Linked DNA regions of Homo sapiens: all the other regions are linked to region 4. The links come from fine-mapping of genetic effects on gene expression. A gene starts in region 4. Each other region holds a variant in brackets. All regions are shown on one strand. Distances are between the middles of the regions. Region 1 overlaps KLHL6 (kelch like family member 6). Region 2 has its middle 31 kb from the start of KLHL6. Region 3 has its middle 30 kb from the start of SNORA63E. Region 4 holds the start of KLHL6 (kelch like family member 6). Region 5 overlaps KLHL6 (kelch like family member 6).

The links.
Region 1: its variant is fine-mapped to the expression of KLHL6 in whole blood (TOPMed, PIP above 0.99).
Region 2: its variant is fine-mapped to the expression of KLHL6 in T cells (TOPMed, PIP above 0.99). The same link has a PIP of 0.9 or more in blood mononuclear cells and whole blood.
Region 3: its variant is fine-mapped to the expression of KLHL6 in whole blood (TOPMed, PIP 0.99).
Region 5: its variant is fine-mapped to the expression of KLHL6 in whole blood (TOPMed, PIP above 0.99).

The regions. Positions count from the first base shown.
Region 1 is chr3:183,514,256-183,519,360 of GRCh38, forward strand. All of the region lies in intron 2 of KLHL6 (kelch like family member 6), which reads right to left. Among named protein-coding and RNA genes, the nearest start is that of KLHL6-AS1, 32 kb to the right of the region's middle. RefSeq lists enhancers at 2,075-2,354, 4,361-4,861. The variant C/T (reference allele first, on the strand shown) is at 2,116.
Region 2 is chr3:183,584,556-183,589,660 of GRCh38, forward strand. No RefSeq gene overlaps it. Among named protein-coding and RNA genes, the nearest start is that of KLHL6, 31 kb to the left of the region's middle. The variant C/T (reference allele first, on the strand shown) is at 2,136.
Region 3 is chr3:183,481,590-183,486,694 of GRCh38, forward strand. No RefSeq gene overlaps it. Among named protein-coding and RNA genes, the nearest start is that of SNORA63E, 30 kb to the left of the region's middle. The variant C/T (reference allele first, on the strand shown) is at 2,899.
Region 4 is chr3:183,553,651-183,558,755 of GRCh38, forward strand. KLHL6 (kelch like family member 6) reads right to left here and starts at 2,056. Exons shown (of 7, transcript NM_130446.4): 1 at 1,711-2,056. The coding sequence starts at 2,003.
Region 5 is chr3:183,491,608-183,496,712 of GRCh38, forward strand. KLHL6 (kelch like family member 6) reads right to left here. Exons shown (of 7, transcript NM_130446.4): 5 at 2,472-2,674; 6 at 887-1,100; 7 at 1-621. The coding sequence ends at 320. Among named protein-coding and RNA genes, the nearest start is that of SNORA63E, 40 kb to the left of the region's middle. The variant G/A (reference allele first, on the strand shown) is at 2,132.

The sequences.
Region 1 (5,105 bases), 39 kb before region 4:
TCCATTGCCTGAAACCAAGGACAGTCCTACCCCCACCCCTTCAATCTTCCACAATCTGGCTGTCAGTCATCACCAGGAACCTCCCTTTCAGAACTCTAGCCACAATTGCACCCATCTCCTCACCTCCTCCAAGCAGTCCTGGAGCTGCCCTGTTGCAGTGCCTTTCCACGCTCCTGCCATCTCTCGGCCTGAGCTGCCTTTCCTCATCATCACCATCTGTTATGATCCTACGCGCCTCACCCAGACAAGCCCAACTCCAGAGCCCAACTTTTTAAGGAAAGACTCAGGATAGCTCACCCCATTTTCAACAGAGAAATCCCCCTGTAAGTTTACCTCAAGAAGAAGGAAGACATAAATATTATAGCCATGACTCTATCCACACAGGGCTGTTTTCTTTCTTTTTTTAAATTTAATTTAATTTTTTTTTTTTGAGATGGAGTCTCTCTCTTGTTGCCCAGGCTGGAGTACAGTGGCACGATCTCGGCTCATTGCATCTTCTGCCTCCCAGGTTCAAGTGATTCTCCTGCCTCAGCCTCCCAAGCAGCTGGGACTACAGGGGCACGCCACCACACCTGGCTAATTTTTTTGTATTTTAGTACAGATGGGGTTTCACCATGTTGGCCATTCTGGTCTCGAACTCCTAACCTCAAGTGATCTGCCCACCTCGGCCTCCCAAAGTGCTGGGATTACAGGCATGAGCCACCATGCCCGGCCAGGGCTATTTTCTTGATTCAGAGTTATTACATCTGGGATCAATGGATCGATCCAGAAAGTCTGTGAACCCCTACAATAGTATGTGAACATTTGCACATGTGGCATTTTTCTGGGAACTTAGTTGGCAGGGGACAGGTGAGTTACTCCCTGGTATCCTTCCACCTAAGTACAAAACCAACACAAGAGAGAGAGCTAAGTCAAAAGATCCAGAGAGGAAGAGAGCCAGAGTCTTGACTAGACGGTGCTTGGAACCCCACCTCTGGACATTTAAAATTCTGGGTCAATAATTGTTTAAGGGCTGGGCACAATGGCTTAAGCTTATAATCCCAGCACTTTGGGAGGCCAAGGTAGGAGAATCAATTGAGCCCAGGATTTCAAGACCAGCCTGAGCAACATAGTGAGACCTCGTCTTTACAAAAAATGTAAAAATTAGCCTGTTGTGGTGTTGCATGCCTATAGTCCCAGCTACTTGGGAAGCTGAGGAGGGAGGATTGCTTGAGCCTGGGAGTTCAAGTTTGCAGTGAGCCATGATCACACCACTGTACTCTAGCCTGGGTGACGGAGCAAGACTCTGTCTCTAAAAAACTAAAAATAAAAAGGAAAAGAAGAATTGTAGAGAAATCCTACCTATTCATGAAGTTCATTCTTAAAAGCTACTTCTTCCTTGACGGCTTCTCCTATTCCCCAACATGGAATCCCTCCCTCCTCTGTGCTCCACTGGGCACCTTGCTTTCCCCTTTTGTGGAGCACCCAGAGTACTAAGGTCAGTTGAGACAAGCATCTCAAAGCAGCTTCTAGGTCATACTTGGGTATTTATTTCTAGCAGCATCTAGCAGAAAGTCTGGAAAAAGAAGAGAAAGAGGGACAGAGGAAGGACATATTTATCACTTAGTATGCACCAAGATCTGTGCTAGACACATTCCCAGTCATTATTTCACTTAACAAATAAATTTTATTTTTTAACAAGTGTATTTTATTTAACAGGTAAAAAAGGGAAGGTGTTAGAATTAGCATTTGTATAAAGGAGCAAATAGAGAATTCAAAGAGCGATGCAAGTTCACACTGCTAGGAGGCAGTACAGTTGATGCTCCAGTCAGCATCGTGGTGCCTTTGTAACTTGTTGCATTGTTGAGCTAACAAAATGCCAGGAGAGTCTGAAGAGGCTTTATGAGGACAGAGGCAGGTGGGGGATCTCCAAGTTGCCTAAGTTCCTCCAAAATATACTTCAATAAACACTTTTAGTGTGAGGGGTGTAGGGCAACATCACATGATCCCAACCAATGGCTGGGAAACTGATGATGCGCAGGGCAATCATGGGAACCAGAAATGGGTTTCTTTTAAATATGCTTTTGCTTCTTCACATTCAAGATTATTCAAGACTTCAAGGTAAATTTTCTGTCT[C/T]GGCCTGTCCCGATGACACATGAACTTGTTTGTCAGAGCTGAGAGATGACAGATAATGGCAAAAGACAGCCAGCTTCCTGTTTGGGGGGACATGTGAGCAAAAGGTTGCAGCCAGCCACCTGACTCTCAAATGAGGAGACTAAAAATACAATCAAAGAAACCACTTGAGACGTGGCTGCAGTTCCCACAAGAAGTGTCTGCCTCCAAGAGAAAGCACTGCCTGTTCCTCATCTCCACTGCCCCTCCTCTGCTTCCCCATGACGTTCTCCAAAATCTGAGGTCCTAGGGGACTTCACCCATGTGACTCCATGTCTCCCTCAAGGTGCCTTCAAATCCACTTCAGAATCACTGAAGTCCTATTTTAGTCCACATCAGCAATTCTGTTGATCATGGTGTCCAAGTGGCTTTGGCGTTATTGCAAAGGGTCTATAAAGACATTGATATTCTTACCTTCAGCTCCGACAAATCAGCATGTGTGAAGGTGTGATGAGATTAATAACATTTAAATTTATTTCAAAGTATTTCTGAATTCATTGTAATTTTTGTTGTTGTTTTTTGAGACAGAGTCTCATGCTGTCACCCAGGCTGGAGTGCATGGTGTGATCTCAACTCAATGCAACCTTCACCTCCCGGGTTCAAGTGATTCTTGTGCCTCAGCCTCCCGAGTAGCTGGGATTACAGGCTCGCACCACCACACCCAGCTAATTTTTATATAATATTTTTAGTAGACACAGGGTTTTGCCATGTTGGCCAGGCTGGTCTCGAACTCCTGGCTTCAAGTGATCTGCCTGCCTTGGCTTCCCAAAGTGCTGGGATTATAGGTGTGAGCCACTGTGCCCAGACAATTGTAAATTTTTTGTCAAAACTTTTCTTCTCCAGCAATAGACACTAAAAGTAAAGTTCCTCTCCTGTGAGGTCTGTGTTGGTGTTTAAAAGGGGTCTTCATGCTAAAAATTTGTGAATTACCATTGATTCTAATCTTCCATCCTCACCTCTCTTCCCCTCTCCCGGGCGATGCTCCAGCTCCGTTCCCGTGGCAGTATGTCTCACAGTCCCCCAGGAGGGGCATTCTCTGCTCCCTCTAGCCACTCCTTTCAGTCCTTGCTCTAGACTTGGCTGAGAAACCTGCTGGTTCCTGGAAGCCTCATGGAGTGGGCAGAAAAGGAAGGAACTAAGACCTGCAAAAGACCTGCTCACTAAGGCAGGGCAGGTGTTGAGGGACTGAGGCAACTGTGGAAGTGGACTGGGGAAAAGACCAGCAGTGTGGCAAGCTTACAATTGTGTTCAATCAGCAAACAGCCCCTGAGTTTCCAGAGAAGACGGTGGTGGCCCCAGCAGGCTAGCAGGGCACAACAGGCAATACATGTGACCCACATATTCAAGGGGCAAGTGGCATGGCTGGGGCTCAGTGATTCAGCCCAGCAATGAGGTAAGGACCAGGGAGAAACACTGTTGTAAAGATTAAGTAGAATGATTGCATCTCGGACATGATTGATGCTCAGGGTGTGGTTTGTGTGTGTGTGCGTAGGGCACAGGAGCAGGAATGGAAGCAGAAGACAAGTGCTGAGAAGCAGCCCCGTGAACACAGGCAGCTGCAATAGGTGGGGTGGTGGGTAGAGAAGGCTGAAACAAGTCCACTTCCAGGTTCTCTCTGCCTGGAATACTTTTCTCCCAATCCTACTGCCACCATCCTATGAGGTCCAATTCAATGTCCCCTCCTTTCTGCCCTGGGCTCTACTTGGTTTGCCCAATGGCCTGGAGGCTCATTGAGAATCTTTCAGGGATAGTGGAGGGAAGTGGATATATGGAGTTGGAAGTTCTGGGTTTACTTGAAAATTCCACCCATAGCTCCACCACTTGATGAGCTGAACACTCTCTCTCTCTCAGCTAGTTTTCTCATCTGGAAAGTGCTAAGAACATAAAACTCACCTCGCAGGCTCACACTGATGGTTCTACCTAGCCTGCTCGCCCACAGAGACATGGTCAACATCAAATGGGATATGTAGGGGACAAAATTGCTACAAAAATGTGATCTGTACTCCACATTTTTAATCTTTATATTCTCCTGACAGCTTCTCACAAAACACCTTGCACTTAGAACATGCTTAGTAATTTGTGGTAGTTAGGGAGCAGTTAAAGTCAGAATCTGGTAGCGATATGGATTTTCATTACAATTAAAAACCCCACACCCCACTTCCTGTATTTTACAACCTATAGGCAGCAACCGAGCACAGGCTTACTCAGGGAAGGGGTGATAGAGCAGGCAAAAGAAGATAATTCTTGGCTTTTGAGTTTCTAAATAGACTTTCAGAACTTAAACTAGAGAAGTGGTTTTGAAAGAAATACCAGTTAGTGGTAAGAACCTACCCCTTCCAGCCTCAAAAGCCAGAGTCCTAAAGAGTCTGGGTACAAAGTTTATACCAAAACAGGAGACGTGAGAGAACGGATGACAAAGCAAGAGTCAGCTTTTCCCACCCTGGAGGCAATAAAGATTCCCAGGCAAGGAAGAGGGACAAGAGAGAGATTGTCTAACAACAGAGTGAGAAGCAGGGGTGGGTTCCCGAGATGATGCCTTGCTTCCCATCCCAGGCCAAATCTCCAGAGTGAGGGGGATGCTAAACGTCCCTTATAGGTTGTGAATCTGAGAACAAAAGAACATGTGCCTTGATCGCCGAGCTGAAAGCAGAAAAGCAGCAGTCCGGTATGGCAGCAGCAGATGAGATGAGAGTGTATTGTTTCCAGACAAAGGGGCCCTGTGGCAGTTGCTCCACGTCCCCTGTAGCTCTGGATTTGTAAAGGAGAGGGAATGGAAGTGTCTTTTGTCTTGAGAGGGGCACAGATGTAGCTGAGAGGATTGCCAGACCTGAAGAGGCTTTGCAAACAGGACAGAGAGAATGCAAAGTGACCTGCAAGGACCAATGACCAGAATCAGGTAGGACTGGGGACTTGTTGATGTCAGTGAGAAAGGAATGAAAAATCAGAGAGAGACT
Region 2 (5,105 bases), 31 kb after region 4:
ATGGCAAGGATTGCTGAAAAGTAACTCTCTGCCACTCCAAGGGGATATGCTATCAGGGAAAATACCCCTCTGCAAAGACATGCAGAATCTATGTTCCAGCCCCTTGGAGGCCTGCTCTCAGGAAGCCAGCTGGAAGCCAGGCCCAGACTGGGGCTGCACCAGAGAAGGAGGCAGCAGCTGTTACCAGATAATTAAAGTTAGGCCAAGTACAGATGAGTTCAGGAGGCTGATGTGAGAGTCAGGGTCAGGCAGGACATGAATCAGCTCAGGCCTGTAAAAAACCATTAGCTGTCAACAAAGGACAGGAACAGCCTATCTAAGCACTGTTCAAAGGTAAGAAAACTCTTAACTGTAGGGACATAACGAGTCTTCCTTCACAGAGCACCAACACCAGATCCTCTCTCTCACTCCCAATTGGCTTCGACTGGAGTCTGTTTTGGAGATACTGAGGAATCCCTGTGTCTCTTGTTATCAGATAATTTAACTAACAGGAAGCTCTTTTTCCTAGCTTGTGACATGATGAATGGATCAATGGGTGACTTCGTGAATAAGAGAGGGAAGTAGAAACAGGTGTACTCTATGGATAGAACCAATAGCAAAGATTTTGTTTAAGGACAGTTGGACTTATCAAACTGTCTCTAGAACCATACTGACAGTGAGTTTCAGGAATGCCCCAGTGAAGCTAGGGGTACAATCTTCATAGACTTCATGGACCAAGGGCAACAGTCATAACAACAGCAATCAGTTAGAGAGTTGAGAGTTAAACAGTTAGAGAGTTGCTGCTATGGTCAAGAATTGTGTTACATGCTGTATTAGGATTCTTGCTGCTGAGTAAAAAAACCCAGCTCAAATGGACACATTGGATATCAACCTTTACCAAAATTCATTTGAAAATAAACTTTTTGTTTTAAAATATTTGGTTTCTCTACAAGGCTCAAATCCTCTAAGGTTTATAGAGATAGGAGGAGAAAGGTAAGACAGACTTTGCATTTTATCATGCCTATAAAGTGTTTTAGCATGCTGAGTTGTAAGCCAAAAATCTACCACCATAACGATCATACCACTATTTGTTGGGTCCTTTCCATGTATCAAACCACTGAACCCAAACAACTTTGCAAAGGGTAATTTTGTCATAGACGAAGATTACGGTTCAGAGAGGTTAAGCAAATTTCCCAAGATCATTAAGCCATACGTGACAGAGATGGAATTTGAGCCCAGGTGTCTCTGACCCCCAAAGCCCATGTGTTTTCCACCATAGCGTGTTGGTCAAATAGTCATTGGCGTCTATTGCTATTTGCAGTTTGAATTTGGTTGTGAGGAGGGGATGGGGGTTATAAACACACAATGGGGCCAGGTGCGGTGGCTCACGCCCGTAATCCCAGCACTTTGGGAGGCTGAGGCAGGCAGATCACGAGGTCAGGAGATCGAGACCATCCTGGCTAACATGGAGAAACACTGTCTCTACGAAAAATACAAAAAAATTAGCTGGGCATGGTGGCGGGCACCTGTAGTCCCAGCTACTCAGGAGGCTGAGGCAGGAGAATGATGTGAACCTGGGGGGGCGGAGCTTGCAGTGAGCTGAGATCGTGCCACTGCACTCCAGCCTGGGCAACAGAGCGAGACTCCATCTCAAATAAATAAATAAAAATAAAAAATTAATAAATACACAATGATATCCCCAAATTTCTCATTGTTTCTATGGCTCACAGAACCTCACCCAAGACACCGTGGATCTTCTATTAGTTGGGTGTGCACGAGACATTTTTCAGCCTTAGGAGGTCTTGAGGGCTCCAGTGTAGGTACATGCTCTGATTGCAAGGAGGGAGGTGTCCACCTGTGCCCTCTGCATGGAAGGGATTGTCACTCTGTATGGCCATCAAAGGGTGGAATGCTTAAAGTATTGCCCTTCTTGCCATTCTAGCAGGATTTTCTTGGAGAGGGGCTGCCCAAGCCTTGAGAAGTTTTCTTATCTTTCATCTTCTAACTCAAAAGAAAACGAAATGAATTTCTGTTAACATCTAGTGTCCCCTGGCCCTGAACATTCTCCTATCCTTCTCTTCCCAGGTAACACAGTGGTGTAGGGCGGCGGCTCACTCAGTTGGAGGAAACCACACCTTCAAGCAACATCCTCTCCT[C/T]GGAACGAGCTTTAAAGGTCTTATGGTTTCACTCTGGGCTCATCTAACTCAGTCTACATAGTTCCTCCAGAGGATACTTACACATGGGTGAATGTTGCCCCTTTCATTCATTTATTCACTGAGTATTTACTGAGCACCTACTATCTGCCAGATACTATTCTAGGTGCCAAGAATACTTGTGTGAATAAGACAGAAAGGTCTCTATCTCAATGAAATTTATATTGTGATAAAAGAGATAGACAATAATTAAACAAGTAGTGAGATAATTTAAATGTTTGACTAGTGCTATGGACAAAAGAAATATAGTGATTAGATAGAGAGTAACACAGGGTGCAGGAGAACCTGCTTTAGAAAGAGTGCTCAGGGCCAGGCAAGGTGGCTTATGCATGTAATCTCAGCATTTTGGGAAGCCGAGACAGGGGGATCACTTGAGGCCAGGAGTTCAATACCAGCTTGGACACCATAGCAAGGCCCCATCTCTACAAAAACATAAGAAAAATTAGCCAGGCCTGGTGGTGTACACCTGTAGCCCCAGCTACTTGGGAGGCTGAGGTGGGAGGATCGCTTGAGGCCGGGACTTCAAGGATGCAATGAGGTATGATCGTGCTACTGAACTCCAGCCTGGGTGACACAGTGGGGCCCTGTCTCTAAGGAAAAAAGAAAAGAAAAGAAAAGGAAAGGAAAGGAAAGAAAGCTTGCTGAGAAAAAGCCTCCCCAAGAAGTTGATATTTGAGCAGAGATCTGAAGGTTGACAAAGACCCAGTCTTACAAGAGTCAGTAGAAGAACATTCTAGGCAGGGAGAACAGGAAGTAGGCAGGAAACTGGGACAGTCAAGCAAAAGCAGCTGCAGCTTAGTGAGCAAGAGAGAGTAGTCAGTTGTAACGAAAGAGGAAGACAGGGACTAGGTCATGGAGGCTTTTCTAGGCCATGGTTAGTAGTTTGAAGTTTATTCTACATGAAGAAGGAAAATAATAGAAGATTTAAGTAGGGCAGTGACATGCATGATTAGATTTAAATGTTTAAAAATCCACTCTTGTGGCCGGGCGCGGTGGCTCACGCCTGTAATCCCAGCACTTTGGGAGGCTGAGATTGGTGGATCACCTAAGGTCCAGAGTTTGAGACCAGCCTGGCCAACATGGTGAAACCTCGTCTCTACTAAAAGTACAAAAAAACTTAGCTGGGCATGGTGGTACACGCCTATAGTCCCAACTACTCAGGGAGGCTGAGGCATGAGAATCACTTGATCCCAGAAGGCAGAGGTTGCAGTGAGTCAAGATAGCGCCACTGCACTCCAGCCTGGGGGACAGAGGGAGACTCCATCTCAAAAAAAAAAAAAAAAAAAAAAGAAATCCATCCTCGTGATGTAGAAAACAGACTAAACAGGGAAGTGGAAGAAGGGAGGCCAGATAGGAGGGTTTGACTGTAGTCCAGGCAAAAGATTATGGCGCCTTGGACTGGGGGTGACAGCAGAGATGGCAGGAAGAGGATGCATTTGGGATATATTCTTCAGGTAGAATTGGCAAGACTTTGTCATGAGCTGAATGCAGGCGGGGAGGACGAGGAAGAAATCTAAAACGATTCCTCAATGTGGGGTTTAAGCAACTGTTTGGAAGATTATGCTCTTTATTATATAATTTAACAAACTATATGGAAAAAATTGGAAAAAAAAACAGATGGTGAAGATGGGGCAGGGAAATTTGGGCATATTAAGATGCCTATTAGAGGTCCATGTAAAGTTGCCGGTGGCAATTGGATTCATGATTCTGGGGCCCAGATGAAATATTTGGGCTAAAGGTACACATTTGGAAGTCACCCCCTTAGGAGAAGTTAAAGCCATGAAACGGAAAAAGAGAGAAGACCCAGGACAGGACTTGGGGCATAAGTTCATTTAAAGGTTGGATAGCAGAAATAGCCAGTTTTAATGATACATTGAGCAAGAGGGAAGCACGCAGTGTAATCAGAAAACCACTTTATTCTTTTCCTCCACTACCTGTTCAAGCCATCCCCTCCATGGAACTAGTTGTTCCCTGCTCCCTTGAACAAAACTGAAGGGGATTGTGTGACTTTTGTGGACATTCTTAAATAATATAAAGCCATCTGGTCACTGCTGGTCACACACACATAGAGAGAGAAAGAGAGAGTCTCATTTCAATAAGCGTTATGAATGGTAATAAGAAAGTATTCCAAATTCATGAAGAGTTGAGGCTCTCTGCTCCAGCCTGGCTGCCTCCAGTGGGAGTCAGCTGTCCTCTATTTCACCTGAAATGTGACGTCCTCTTTCCCAGCTCATTTGGCTGCCTCTGGTTCCTCTAGAATGGAAGCAGAGTGGGGAGGTAGAAAGGGACAGGGCAGGAAAGATCCTACGTGGCTAGTCTTGTCGTAAACTAATAAGAGCTGTCTGGGCTTTCCAGGCATCTAGAGCTTATTCTTTCTCTTTTGGGACAATATTATGGTTTCTTCAGACTCATCTTTGGAAATCTTACAATGGCAGTTCCCATGCTGTAAGTAAATGCATCTCCTAGGGCTGGTCACTTACAATTCCTCTTTCACTGCCTTGGAATCTAATAGTACATCTCCAACACTTGTTTGTGGTTGGGTTTTTTTCTCCAAGCAGCCCTCCTGGGCAGGATCTAAGAAAACCTCAAGCTTGCTTGCTTTCTCTGTGAGTGCTACCTCAGGCCCGTGGGAAGCACTCATAAGCATCATTTGCCCCAACATAGCACCATCTCTTCTCCCTGCCATTAGAACAGCTAGCCGGCCAAGGGCAGACTCTAGTCCACTGTGATCCACCTTCTAAGTGCTCCCCAGTAAAGCCCCTTTCCCTACACTGGTCAGGAGGGGCAAGCATCCCCCACTGCTTCTGTACGATGGGGAAAAACTCATAGGGCACATCTCTCTAAACAAATTTTCTCTCCAATTTCTTACGCACCTTGGTCTCATTAATCTCTTTTATAAGCTGGAGGTGTTTA
Region 3 (5,105 bases), 72 kb before region 4:
AAGTGCTATAGATATAAAAACCAGCAAGAAAACAGCCCCCAGCCCCGTGGGCCTTCAGTCAAGTAAGGACAATTACAGCAGCTAACATGTGCGGTGCATTTACAATCTGTTGGGCGATGAGCTAAGCATTCCACGTGTACGATCTCGTCTAATCCTCACCCAAACTCTATGAGGCATAGTCTATTATTACTGTACTTTCAGGATGAGGTGACTTAGAGTGGAGGTGAGTAACAAAGCCGCAGCCTTTTCTAACCCTCAGCACATCTCCAGGCTTGCTTCCTGCTGAGGATTGCAACCCACCTCCCAGGGAGATGAAGTCTCTAAAATTGGAAATAAAAATTTCAGCACCTAATTTCTAGCTTGCATCTGAATTGCCACACGTTCTTTTACAGGTTTTTTTTTTTGTTGTTGTTGTTTTTTGTTTTTGTTTTTGAGACGGAGTCTTGCTCCGTAGCCCAGGCTGGAGTGCAGTGGTGCGATCTCCACTCACCGCAAGCTCCGCCTCCCGGGTTCACGCCATTCTCCTGCCTCAGCCTCCCGAGTAGCTGGGACTACAGGTGCCCGCCACCACGCCCAGCTAATTTTTTGTATTTTTAATGGAGACGGAGTTTCACCGTGTTAGCCAGGATGGTCTCGATCTCCTGACCTCGTGATCTGCCCACCTCGGCCTCCCAAAGTGCTGGGATTACAGGCATGAGCCACCGCGCCCGGCCTACAGGTTTTTAAAATAGTTTGTTGGTTTGCATTTAGCCATTGAAATTTTTATTAGTTTGTTTTTTAATGTGCTGGATCTCAGGTCACATGATTTTAGGCTGCCAACAAGATCTTTTCAAAAATTAACTGGGCTTCCTGGGGCACACTAACTTAAGAGTTCTGGCTTTTGTCCCCTTTTGCCCATCCCCACTAACACCAGCACTGATGTTCCCACTGTCACCAAGATGCTGAATGGATAAGCGGTCACATGATCAAAGTACTGCCTTCCACCTACACTGGGAATGAGTTGGGATCGTAGCTCCTGGAAAGGCTTCCCCAACAACCCTAGGGTGTGTGAGTAGGCAATTTGGAGAGTCAGCCCCAGCCCACCGTAATATGAGTGCCCAGAACAGGATCATGCCCAAGACAGAGCATGGATTTGGAGAACAAACTCAATATACGTTGGATTCATAAAAACATTGGGCTCAGGGTGGCAATTCCTTGCTGTTACGCACCTGCGAACATAGCTGACTTGGATTTGCAAGCCACAAGCTTAGGTGTGGAACATTTGTGAGTCTCTAGCATTTCTGAACCTGTCTTAAGAGCTATCACCTTACTCTGATGACATTCCAAGTGCTTACACAGGCCTCTGAGACTCCCTACCATGGCTCTGAATTTAGTCCGGCTACACAGGCCTCTTGACTGTTCCTTACTTATTTATTTATTTATTTTTGAGATGGAGTCTCACTCCGTCACCCAGGCTGGAGTGCAGTGGCGCAATCTCGGCTCACTACAAGCTCTGCCTCCCATGTTCAAGCGATCCTCCTGCCTCAGCCTCCCAAGTAGCTGGGACTACAGGGATGCCACAATGACCAGCTAAATTTTTGTGTATTTTTAGTTCAGACAGGGTTTCACCATGTTGGCCAAGCTGGTCGCGAACTCCTGACCTCAAATGACCTGCCCATCCTGGCCTGCCAAAGTGCTGGGATTACAGGCATGAGCCACCGTGCCCAGCCATGACTGTTCCTTAAATACACAGAAGCCTCCCACCTCAGAGCCTCATTAGCTCTTCCCTCTGCCTGGAGTAAGCTTCCCCAGATACTCTCAGGCCTCTCATGCTCTCTTCACTCAAGCCTCTGTTTAAGTGTCTCTATCAGAAAGGTTGGCTGTGTTCATCCTAGCTCAAGTAGCATGCATCACCCTTCCCCTGAGTTACTTTCTTTGGACATTTATCTCTACTTGTCATTATATTATATGCTTGTTTGATTCTTGCCTGTCTCTCTCTACTAGAATGTTAGCTCATGTGAGCAGAGGCTTTGTTTTGTTCACAGATGGACAGAAATCATGCCTGGCACGTAGTAGGCGCTCAATGAATATTTGTTGCATTGTTTCACAAAGACTCACCCCATTCCTTCTTTCACTAATGTCTACTTAGAACTCAGAACAAAATCTAAGGCATCATTTTTCCTACAGATTCCTCCAGTGACCTTTTCCCGGAATGTGACATTCTACCAGAATGCACTTTGACAATTAAAAACCTCAGCATTTCTTCCTAGACTAGTTTTGTCACTGTCCTAATCTTTTTCTTTTTTTTTTTTTTTTCTATTTCTGGCTTGGTCTCATGTTTCAGGGAAATTACTCAATAGATGCTCCTATTACTACATTTTTACTATGAAAGAATAGAATTTCGGCCAGGCATAGTGGCTCATGTCTGTAATCCCAGCACTTTGGGAGGCCAAGGCAGGCGGAGGCGGATCACCTGAGGCCAGGAGTTCGAGACCAGCCTGACCAACATGGCAAAACCCTGTCTCTACTAAAAATACAAAAATTAGCTGGGCGTAGTGGCAGGTGCCTGTAATCCCCGCTACTCAGGAGGCCGAGGTAGGAGAATTGCTTGAATCCAGGAGGTGGAGGTTGCAGTGAGCTGAGATCTCACCATTGCATTCCGGCCTGGGCGACAGAAAAAAACAAACAAACTCAAAAAAACAAACTAACAAAAAAACTCAAAAAACTCAAAAAAAAACCTCAAAAAACTCAACAAAACAAACAAACTAACAAAAAAACAAAGAACAGAATTTCACCAACAAAAATCCTGTTTATCTAAGGCCAGACTTACAGATTTCTCTGCGCAGTCAGGTTTTCCCTCTGCCTTCTGTGTATTGCCGCTTTGTTAAATCAAGATGATATGGTTTGGCTGTGTCCCCA[C/T]CCAAATCTCATCTTGAATTGTGGCTCCATAATCCTCAGGTGTCATGGGAGAGACCTGGTGGGAGGTAATTGAATAATGGGGGTAGGTTTTTCCCGTGCTGTTCTCGTGATAGTGAGTAAGTCTCACAAGATCTGATGGTTTTATAAAGGGCAGTTCCCCTGCACAGGCACTCCTTCCTGCTGCCATGTAAGACATGTCTTTGTTCCTCCTTCACCTCCTGCCATGATTGTGAGGCCTCCCCAGCCATGTGGAACTGTGAGTCCATTAAACCTCTTTCCTTTATAAATTACCTAGTCTCGGGTATTTCTTCACAGCATATGAAAATGGACTAATACACCAGGCTTTGCCACCCTCATCTCCCCTCACCCCTGCCCTGTCTGCCCAGGTCAGTGCCCTCCAGCCTTGTACCTTTCAGATATGGGTTGTGACCTGTGACCCATTTAGTGGGTGATGAAATTAATTTGGTGGCTTGTGAACAGCATTTTAAGAAAAAAATAGAATAGGAAATACAGAAAATGTGTTTCTTATTGTGATACATGTTCAAGAAAGTTTGAAAGCACTGCTCTGGCCTGTATGGGTCAAAGAAGCTTTAGTACTATTTTTCTCTTTAGTTGCCTTCAGCAGATTCTAGAAGAAGGGGCTTCGGCACTCCTGGCCTCGCACAGTGGGCCTGTGGTGGATTGTAGAAAATGGTCAGTTCTCTTTTAAAATGCTGCCAACAGCAGCGCAGGTGGTGGGCACACCTGTTCTTTTAACTGTATCTGTTTCATAAGGTAAGTATACCTGGGACACTGAAACTCTCAGTACCAACACTCCACTCATACCCTGCGCTCAGAGACTTCACCAAACCATCGCATGGCTTCTAGCAGCCTGAGGCCACGTCCCTGGGATGGCCCAGCCCCCTTTTGAGTTGCTGTCTGGGAAAGCTTAAGGCTGTCAAAAGAATTGAGTTTGTTCCACCAACATCTGACAACAGGCCCCTGATCTTGCTTTTTTAGAGCATTTACTAAAAAAAGGAGGCTTACCATTGTGAATCCTTCCTCTGTTGCTCTGAGCTACTATGTATGTGTTGCCTACAGCTCAGGGGTGTCTTTCTCAAGGACCTGAAAGCCATTCCCCTCAAGGTAATTATCAGGAAGGAGAGAGGATCCTAGCTTCGAGAACTGCCAGCTAGCAGACACAGCTGGTCTCATCATATTGACTCTGCCCAACACTTTGTCATTTTTCACTTCCCTGACTCTACCTGAACCTGCTCGCTCCACCTCCTGCCTCCCTTATTCTCCCTTTAAAAGGCCCAGTCAGCATCTCTGCACAAATCAGAATAGAGCTCAGCTCTTTCCGCTACTGTCAGCAGTTACTGAATAAAATTTGTTTTCACTGCTTTAACTAATGTCCAGCTTGTTTATTTTTATTTTTAAACCATATACGTACACATGCACACGCGCACACACACACACTTCTTCTCAAGACAAACATTGCTTCTCAGAGATAGCTGATTCTTGTCATCCTCATAATCTAGAGTATCTTCCCTTCCTATGTTTAAGTTATAAGTAAAGTTTTAACTGTTCCAGTCTGGTCTTTGATGTTCCTTAGGAAATTAAATGAAGAGTTGTGTATGGGACTCTTTCCTTACAGGGAAGAGTTGGGGCTATGAGGTCCAAATTTCCGTGCCCACTGGGAGCTTCTCCTTCCACTGCCAAACGTGGAGGAACCAGGATTCGTGTTACAAAGGGAGATTTCCAGTTGTCTTACACATCAAAGGCCACCCCCTTTTCCCTCTACCCAGCTTTAACTTTCCCAAAGAATTTATAAGCAGGAAGTCTCATATTCTCTATCCAGGCAGATGAGTAGAGATGGTTGGGCATGGGTTTCAAGGCAGCGTTTCATGTGGGAATCAATAACAAAGCAGACATCTGAATGTGCAAAGAGAAAAGGAAAATCCCCAGGTGCCAGTAAACAAACATGGAAGTGAAAAACAGAGTGACTGGTAAGCAGCCAGGCCAATGGTGGGGAGACTGGGGAGGGTGGGACTGGACCTGGATTCATCCCCAGCACCAAAGAGTTTTCAACTGTGGCCACATGCAGGAACGGAACATAAGGCATGGGCCTATGGAGGGCGGGAGAGAACTGAGATCCTGTATGAAGGCTGCACGTCCAGTGAAAAGGAGCTGGTCCAGAAGATGCCATACACCAGCAGGGAGGAGCT
Region 4 (5,105 bases):
CTTCCCATGGAATGAAGTCCCAGACCTAGTGGCAGCTTGCATTGCAGTAACAAGGATTTCCAGAACATACCCAGTCCCTGCTCCAGCAATGACCAGATATATAATGCTGAGTTTTCATTTCCTCATCTGTGAAATATCAGCCACCTTCATCATGCTGTTACAAAAATAAAATCAGATAACTATGTCTGTCTGGCACACAGCAGCCACTGCTTCCCTCAAACCCAGATATCCCCTTGTCTTATCAACACAGGAGACCTAATGAGTCCCACAGCAACCTGCTGATCCTGCTCTATGAATTACAAAGAAACGTTTCCCCCCAAGCACCTCAAAAAAAAAAAAAAGAAAGAAAGAAAACGCTTTCCATAATACTTTCATAGGTTAATCGTTTTCAATTTCCTCAGCCAGAATCAAGAGTTAAGAAGAATCTCATTAAGAAGAATTCTAAGGGTATTTCTTTTCAAGTTCCCAAATACTTTCTTCATTATCCACATTGCCCTTGCAGGCTGGTTCCCCCATGTCCATGCTGATATGGAGAACACTGGATCAGGTGTATTCACTGGGTTCCCAGCGCTATAAAATTCCTACCCCAGGGACGTGCTCATGGGAAACACTCAATAAGTCATCCTTAGCTGAATCAAGCAGAATCAGAAAAAGAATTCCAAGAAAGATATATTGAGCATCTACTTACTATATGCTAGACACTGTGTAGGACCCTTTTCACGCTCTTGTTTAATTATGACAGCCCTGAAAGGTGATCATCATTGTGCTCACCTTACAGATGATGAAACAGACATTCAGAGCACTTTGTGACTTGCCTAAAGTTTCACTGTCAAGAAGGAACCAAGTCTCCTGACTTCAGGCCTTCCCACTATGAGATCACCAGTTTATCGTAACTAGAGGCCTCTCCCATCTAAAGCATCTTTGTAACTGCTTTCCCTTTCCCCACACTGCCTACACATAAAGAAGCCCCTAATTTGTAACAAGTCATTTGACAACTCCAGAAGAGGGGCCACATCCTTTTTCTCTATGTCTGTTGATTAACAAAGACAACATTATGTTTCCAACACCAGTCAGACCAAGGGGGAAAAAAGTCCCCATGACTTCAGTAATTTTCCATCCTTTGGAACAAGGAAATATACACAAAAGGTTTACTATAGAATGTAAGCATTGCTTTTAAATGATGCCAATCTCTCTTTTAATGTGGCCTAAATCCTAAAATTTAAAGTGTGATAAGCCGGGCGCAGCGTCTCACACCTGTAATGCCAGCACTTTGGGAGGCGGAGGCGGGTGGATCACCTGAGGTCGGGAGTTCAAGACCAACCTGACCAACATGGAGAAACCCCATCTCTATTGAAAATACAAAATTATCCGGGTGTTGTGGTGCATGCCTGCAAATCCCAGCTACTCGGGAGGCTGAGGCAGGAGAATCGCTTGAACCCAGGAGGCAGAGGTTGCGGTGAACCGAGATTGCGCCATTGCACTCCAGCCTGGGCAACAAAAGCAAAACTCCGTCTCAAAAATAAATAAATAAATAAATAATAAAATAAAGTGTGATAGTGTCCTTTCTTATATTTTAAGTAGACACACAAGCCTTAATATATATGTAAACCATAAATATCATGGCCAACTGTTCAAGATTGGGCTCTCACACTAACACACCTCTTCCTTGCAACTTGCACCCAATTTGACTCTGGTCCTAGGCATGCTGACCTGAAATAGTTGCTGGCTGCGGCAAGCACCACGCGGTGGCAGGAGAATTCCTGAATGTCCACACACAAGATGACATCTGTCAGAGCGTTTTCCATTCGCAGGGTTTCCAGGCCATTCTGAAGAATTAAGGAGAGTCCCGCGTCGTCAAATTTGACCTTTTCCCCATTTAAGATCTCGACCAAGTCTCCTGTTTTCTGGGAGGGCTCATCTGTAGAAGGTGCCAGGGGCCCTTCCAAACTCTTCTCGACCACATCACCCATGGTCCAGGCGCCCCTTTGTCCTGCCATCAACATCGAGACTGAAGGAGCGCCCAAGTGTCAGGCAGGCCCCATTGCAGGAGCTGAGCGGATTTCCTGTGCAGGGCCCTCCACTTATCACCAGCTGTCACACACACATAACAGGAAGTCTCGCACTTTCTCATCCTGTTACTACAAATGCCAGCAACTTCTATTCTTCTTCTTTCTGTGAGTAATCACAGGGTTAGAAATTACTTAGAATAGGTGTGTGGGAGGGGGTTCTGGAAGAGGAGTGTCCTCTCAGAGTCCACTGTGAGTGCTGTGTGTTTATTTTGGTGCATCTCCCACCTCATATCCGTGAGCAGGAAGCCTCCGGTGGTGGCTGTTACATTTGTACTCCTAATGCTATCAATAACCCAAGTCGTCAATGAGGGGATGGACAGGAGACAGTCTATAATCCTCCTGCTTCACATTTGTACTCCTAGTGGCTCAATAACCCAAGTCGTCAGCGAGGGGATGGACAGGAGACAGTCTATGATCCTCCCACTTCCTCCTCCCAGGAGTCTGAGACCCCACAATGATCCAACAACCGTGCTTTGTAAACCATGGAAACCCCACTTATCCCTGACATTCTCATTTCTGGCGGCACTGCAGATCGTCTATCTTCATCCTCCTCCCTACCCAGGGGAAAACAACGTCATGGCAAACTTTCATGTCTTCCCCCACCAAAAAAAATGTCTATTGTTTCGAATATGCTTTGGGGGCACAGAAGAAATGGTTTCCAAAACTCCATCAACAGCATCTTCTCAGAGGATGAGTCAGGGTGGGTCTACACCGAATTGCCATAGCACGTCTCAGATTAGCCCAACATCTACTGACCGTGCATCTAACGGTGGATCCTGAAGTATTTTCATTACCTCTGCATGTCTCAGTTAAGTAGTAATAACTGTCATTATTAAAATCCCATGATATCCTGGGGAAGTTATAGGAGCGTATCAGTTAGCGTTCTCTCACGCCCAACAGTAATGCTTTACCAGGTTGCTAGGTATTTCTTAGCCCAGCAAACTTGACATCTAAAATTAACCATTACAATTACAGTCATACCCAGCATAATGATATTTCAGTCGATGATGGACTCCAGAGAGACAGAACCAAAAGGATACCTAGAGAGGCATAGCAGAGGGAAATTATTAGGGGAATTGGCTCACGTGATTATGGAGACTGAGAAGTCGCATGACAGACTGCTGAGAGCTCAGTTCAAGTCCAAAGGCCTCAGAACCAGAGAAGATGGTATAACTCTCAGTCCAAAGCCAAAGGCCTGAGAATCCAGGGGGTGGGGAGACTGGTGTAAGTCCTGAAGTCCAAAGGCAGGGGATCCTGGAGTCCTGTTGTTCAAGGCAGGAGATGACTGTATCCCAGCCTCAGGAGATAGAGACATCGACCTTTCTTCTGTTTTTGTTTTCTCTGGGCCCCTGGCTGATTGGATGGTGCCCACCCACACTGAGAGTGTATCTTCTCTACCGAGTCCACTCAGACTCACTAATCTCTCCTGGAAACAACCTCACAGACACGCCCCATGGTAATGCTTTAACAGGTTGCTAGGTATTTCTTAGCCCAGTAAACTTGACATCTAAAATTAACGGTCACAAGTACAGTCATGCCCAGCACAATGACATTTCAATCGATGATGGACTGAATATACAATTGTGGTCCCAAAAGATTATAATGGAGCATATAAAGAAACCTGACGGCCGGGCGTGGTGGCTCATGCCTGTAATCCCAGCACTTTGGGAGACCAAGGCAGGGGGATCACAAGGTCAGGAGCTCAAGACCAGCCTGAGCAACATGGTGAAACCCCCATCTCTACTAAAAATACAAAAATTAGCCAGTCGCGGTGGCGTACACCTGTAATCCCAGCTACTTGGGAGGCTGAGGAAGGAGAATCGCTTGAACCCGGGAGGTGGAGGTTGCAGTGAGCTGAGATTGTGCCATTGCACTCCAGCCTGGGCAATAAGAGCGAAACTCTGCCTCAAAAAAAAAAAAAAAGTCATGGAAAAATAATGCCATTCACAATGGTAATAAAACATATGTAAATGCCTAGCAATAACAGCAACCAGCAACATAAAGAAAACTAACAAACTTTACTAAGAGTTTCGAAAGAAAACTTAAATAAATATACCAAGTTCCTTTATGGAAAGACTAAATATTATTAAAAGGACCAATTCTTTCCGAATACATTTATAGGTTTATTTTACTCTAATAAAAATTACAAGAAAATTTGGAGTTTAGGTTTGTTTGTTTGTTTGTTTTTGAGACGGAGTCTTACTCTGTTGCCCAGGCTAGAGTACAGTGGTGCGATCTCAGCTCACTGCGACCTCCGCTTCCCAGGTTCAAGCGATTCTCCTGCCTCAGCCTCCCAAGTAGCTGGGACTACACGCATGCACCACCACACCTGGCTAATTTTTTGTATCTTTAGTGGAGACAGGGTTTTGCCATGTTGGCCAGGCTGGTCTTGAACTGCTGGGCTCAAGCGATCCACCCGTCTCGGCCTCCCAAAGTGCTGGGACTACAGGCTCACACCACCGCACCTGCCCCAAGTTTAGGTTAAATGTAAATGAACAGTATCAAGATAGGTTCAAAGCACAGTGGGACTATCTGTAAAAGGATAAACATTAAGTCTAGACTTTACAGTGGACCCAAAGTCTTTTCTCCCTGGAAACTACAAAATTGAGATAGATGTGGAATGTTGTATTCAGAAGCCCCGTATCTGAGTTGGAAATTGAGACTGCTTCCCAGTGTCAAAGTGATTTAGATCTTCCAGACAACTATGAGATCTCATTCTTACTGACACAATGGCAAACAACAAAGTTTCTGATGGTCTGTGATTTTTAGAAAACAATTTTTCTCAGTAAGAATAAGTAGTCACCCACGAAGGGTATCCTTATGACACATTTATAATTGCAAGGAGTCACTTAAGGAAACGTTATTTCTTTTTAACGTTTCATCTGTGTCTGACTTCCTAGCCTGATGAATGGGAGGGCAGATTTTTTACTTTCCGATCTGACCTAATCTTTGAAGAAACGTTGTTTCTTTTTAATGTTTCATCTGTGTCTGACTTCCTAGCCTGATGAATGGGAGGGCAAATTTTTACTTTCTGAT
Region 5 (5,105 bases), 62 kb before region 4:
ATAAGAGCCAGTCACCAGGTTAAATGAACCGATAAAAGGAAGTGCCTGGCACAGAAGCCGGCATAGGGTGGGTGGGTCCTGAATGCTAAATATTACTCTTCCTCGCCTCCCCTCCTGAGGTAGGTCATGCAAACATTCCTGGCCGGTCTCAAGTGACCCCAAACTGTGACTTCCAAGGTTCCCCCAAAGTGAGTCAAGGGGATCCCCTGATGTATGGCCTCAAACTCGAGCCTGCTGCCTGAAGTGGGACTGGAGGAGGGTGAGAGGTGAGGCGGGTACGCTGAGGGTCGGGGGGGCTCTCCAGCTCCCCATCCTGCCGTCAGACAGACACTGCTCCGGGCACGATCCTGCGGATGTGGGTGTACGACTTCCTGATGGTGACGCTGCCGTGGTGCGACACGCCCCGGGGCAGGACGCACTCCTCTGTCAGTTTCTGGGCCTCGGGGTCCCAGCACAGCACCGTGGCGATAACCTCGTTCTTCTCGTCCCGCCCGCCGGTGATGTAGAGCCGGTTGTTGCAGGGCGCGATACCGCAGCTGGCCCGCTCGTGGCTGAGCTGGGTCACCAGGCACCAGCTGTCTTCCAGCGGGCTGTAGGCGTACAGCGCTCTCATGGCCCCACCTGAGGAGAGGGAGGAAACACGGTGGGCATCGCTCCATTTTTCTGGTTTCTTCCCTCTTAACCACTAAAATTCAACTTCTGATTAGGCCAAGTCTACCCTCTTGCCAAGAGAAACAGTCGATTGATGGCTCTCCTGAAAGCCAGAGTGGGTCCTAGGGGCAGTGAGTTGCCAGCGCTGGAGACACCGCGACACACCGTTTACGTGCTGCAGCCAGGCGCTCATCAGGTTCTAAGCCATTCAGACCAATAAGAAGCCATTACTCACCAACGACATAGATGCGGTCCCGGAAACTCACTGCATTGATGCATTTAGCCTCCACGGGCATGGCCGCCTTCAAACTCCACTTGTTGGTGGAAGGGTCATAACACTGAGTCTTGTCTGTGGCCAGTTTCCCATTGGGCCCTCCCCCGATCACATACAGCTTCTTCTTATGGCTGGTGGCTGCAAAGGAACTGACATGGACAAGGAGGGGTGCGGCCTGTAGAGGCACAGGGCACAAGAAGAAGCTGTCAGTCATGCTGCCCAGATTGCTGCAGTAGCTCCCAGGATACAGGACAGAGCTCCGGGACACAGAACTGGGCATCTTTTGCCTATAGTCACAAGGCCCATGGGCTTGACTCCTCTTAAGACACAGCAAGAATGAAAGCATGCATTTCCCACCCTCCCTCCAGGCTCCACGCAAGCTAGAGCAAGCTGTGTGTTGGGATGTGCCAGCCTCTCCCGGAATCCAGCTCTCAGGCAAGAATAAGTTTATACAGATGAAGTCAGCCAGTGTGGGAGGAAAATGATGTTTTATACATGCATATTCATATTCATTCATGTGCTCATCCACTCGAAAAATATTTATGGAATGCCTACTATGTACCAGCATTGATTTTCCTTGGTGCTTATATCTAGGAAGAAAAGCTGAAACGGTGGCCACAGGTAAGCAGACTCTTCCATTATGGGGCAGCATTGAGGATTTTGAGATTAAGTCAGACGTGTGCTTCTATCCTGTGAACCCCAGGACAGTAAAGGAGACTTCCAAGAGCCTCTTGCCCATTTATTTACAGGATCCTTTTAGATCGTGGAGCAGCTCTGTGATAGGGCTTGTTTTGAGAAGATCCTGGGCATGTCCCCCATACATGTTAAGGGCTCTCAATATAGCACTTTTCAGGCTGACAGTCTTGGCTAGATGTGGTGACCTGGCTACCTTTGCTTGTGCCTACAATGACTGTGTTGTACATTCCATTAAGCTGGAACATGCTTGGACATCTGATCTGATAAGGAGAAAGAAAATTTGAAACTGGGAATAACCTGGAAATGAGATGAGGTGGCTTTTCTTTTCCTGGGTCTGATATATACCTGAGGTTGCATTACTAAAGTCTGACATGCAGGCCTGTAAGTGGCTCATCATCCATGGGAAAATAAAGAAGGGATGATTTCTAACATGACCAAATCACTCTGGGTTCATAAACGGTGTAGTAAAGTGATCCGCATGTGTCCAGTGTGGAGAAGAATAGGAGAGAA[G/A]GCATCTGAGGAGACAAGACTCTACACCAAGACATGCAGACCAAGAGATCTCCCATCTAAGGACAGGGTGAGCCTCTGTGCACATCTGGGGTTCTGTCCAAATTAGGACAGGTGCCCACACAGACCTTCACCACTTGGAAGGACATTGTTTCTGTGACTTGATCAGCAATACTGAAGCAATAGCTCCTAGGAGGAGGGAAGCTCAGAGCCACCAAAACTGTTCTCCTTGGAAGTAAAGTGATCAGAAAGCTGACCACCACGGCAGGCACGTTCCAAAGCTTTTTAAAAAAGCACTGAAGTAATAATACAGGCAGTTACTGGTAGAAATCGTGTCCTATACCTCTGACCAGCAGTTGTGAAAGGGGTCGTAGGTCTCCACATTGTTGATTCTCTGTAAGCCGTCAAAGCCTCCGATCACATAGACCTTGCCACCCAACACCACCATCTTATGCCTCCAGCGGCCTATGTTTAAATACTCAATCTGAATCCACTTGTTGATCGAAGAATTATATTTCCAAACATCATGCTGTGTTTCTTTGCCACCTGCAAGAGATACAAAGCATTTAAGAAACCATCAGATGTGTCAGAAATACAGCTTCTCCCATAATATCCCACATGTCCAAAAGTGCCAGGTCCCCAGGCCAGCCCTACCCTGAGGGGAGATACAAGAAACCCAGCAGGTGTGTGATGTCTGGCAGGGGAGATGAGGCAAATGCAGGGGAACAGGGAGAGACAGAATGGATGATGTGCCACACTGTGTCATGTCCACCTCAGTGCTGCGAGAGTTCAGAGAAGAGGTGGCTAAGTGAGCAGTGCCCTGAGAAGGCTTCAGGGGGCAGGACCCAAGCCAGCCTGGGTGGGTAGGGACCAGAGGGAGCCTGGACTCAGTGTTTGCCCTCACAGGGAGCAGGAAGCAAGGCTGGGCGGGGACAGTGGGGTTTGTGCAGAAGGCAAATTACATGGCAGCTTAAATTCTATGTTTACTTTTTATTTAAACCAAAAAGCAAAGATACAGACCTGGAAAAATCACTAAGAAATCCTACAACATTCTCCTGGTTTGTCGCTCTGATCTGTTTAAAACAATCAGTGGGATTTATCCTATTTCTAAATAATTTTTGTTATAAAAGTATGAGATGCTCACAATAGATCATTTGAGAGTGATCTGGTAAACATTTTCTTGAAGGCAACTCTCTTAAAAAACAGAAAATACAAAATTCAGCAGCTGGGGAAAGAGACAAAGACAAAGGAGAACTGACTTTTTGGGTGATTTTAATCAAATATTTAACAGCTTTGTGTTTCCATTTTCCCATCAGCATAGACTACCACCAACTACTTAAAGCAAAGATTTACTTTTCAGACTTACATGTGTGCAATAGTGGAGAAATGAACATTACTGACCACATTCTGTGTCAGGGGTGTTTCTCTAGCATGGAACCCAGAAGTGGGTTTACTAAGTCAAAGCCATGTGCACCCTGAATTTTTATAGGTGCAGCCAAGGCATCCTCCGCAGCTGTGGTGGTTGACTTTTCCTCATACCCACTTTTTGTTGGTGGTGGTGGTTTTGTTTTCTTTCTTTTATTTATTTATTTTTTTGAAGTCTGACGGAAAAAAACTATGTCAGTTTGGTTTTCGCTTACTATGAGGGAAGCTGAGCTTCCTCTTCCTTGAATCTTTTGTTCATATAGTTTGGCTATTTTCCTTTGGGTGGGGTACCTTTCAGAGGTCTCCATTTATTCAAAACATTGATCCCATTTAGGTAGCATCAAAAAGTATAAAATAAATGTAAATTTTCAAAGAAATGTATGCAACCTTTATTAAAACCTATGATTTTATTTTAGGACAAAAAAAAAAAACCCTGAGAAAGCATATTGTGTGCATAAATCAGAAGACACCTTATTGTGAAGATGTCAACCCTCCCTAGGTTAATCTATATACTCAGTGCCTTCAAGACTTTTGAGGGGAACTTGATGAGATAATTCTAAATTTCACTGGGAAGAGTAAGTTTGGAAAAATTTCTAAGAAACTTTTGAAAAAGAAAAGGGAAGAAGGAGGCTTTCCTTATCAAATATTAAAATATACTATAAAGCTATCCTAATACAAACAGTGCAGTACTAGACAAACTGATCAGTTAAAAACAAGAGCACAGAAACGGACTAAAATATATACAGATCATTAAATAAATGTTATTAGAACAATTGGTTATTCATTTGGATAAAGATTAAGTTAGATACTTATTTTACATTACATTTAAAATAAAATTCAAATGTTACTGCTACAGAAGTAACTGGAAAATGTATAGGATATTATGTTAATGACCTTGGGGTTAGGAGGGGTTTTCTAAGCATGACATGAATGTAGAATTGTATAGGACAGAAAACAAGTATATAAAGGTAAAAAACAACCACAGTCTAGGAGAAAATATTTGCAACACAAATAGCAAAGGATATATAAGAAGAGTTCCAAAAAATTAGTAAGAACAAGACAAAAACTGATAGGAAGTGTCAAAGAGTATGAACAGATAATTTTTAAAAATAAATACAATTATCTGGTAAATATATATTTACCATTCTAGTCTATTAAAAATTTAAATGACTAATAATAAAAATCGTTAGCAAGGATATAGAAAATGAGCACTGTCATTCATCACTGATTGAACTGTAAATTGGTACAACTTTTCTGTAGGAAAATTTCACAATATATACAAAATTCTTAATTCACATATGACCACTTCCAGGAAACTTTCCAAGTAGCAGCACAAGTATGAAAAAATATGTGTCTAAGAATGCCTACTGCAATATTTTTTAAGGAGACCAAAAAAAGAAAGCTAAAAAAATTATGGTTTATCCATTTGGTAGACTGCCATATAGCTGGTAAAAAGAATAACAGTAGTGATAATACTGGCCAACATAATTAAGCTCCCACCATGTGCTTTGCATGTAATAACTATATCACTTGATATGTATATCCATTAAAC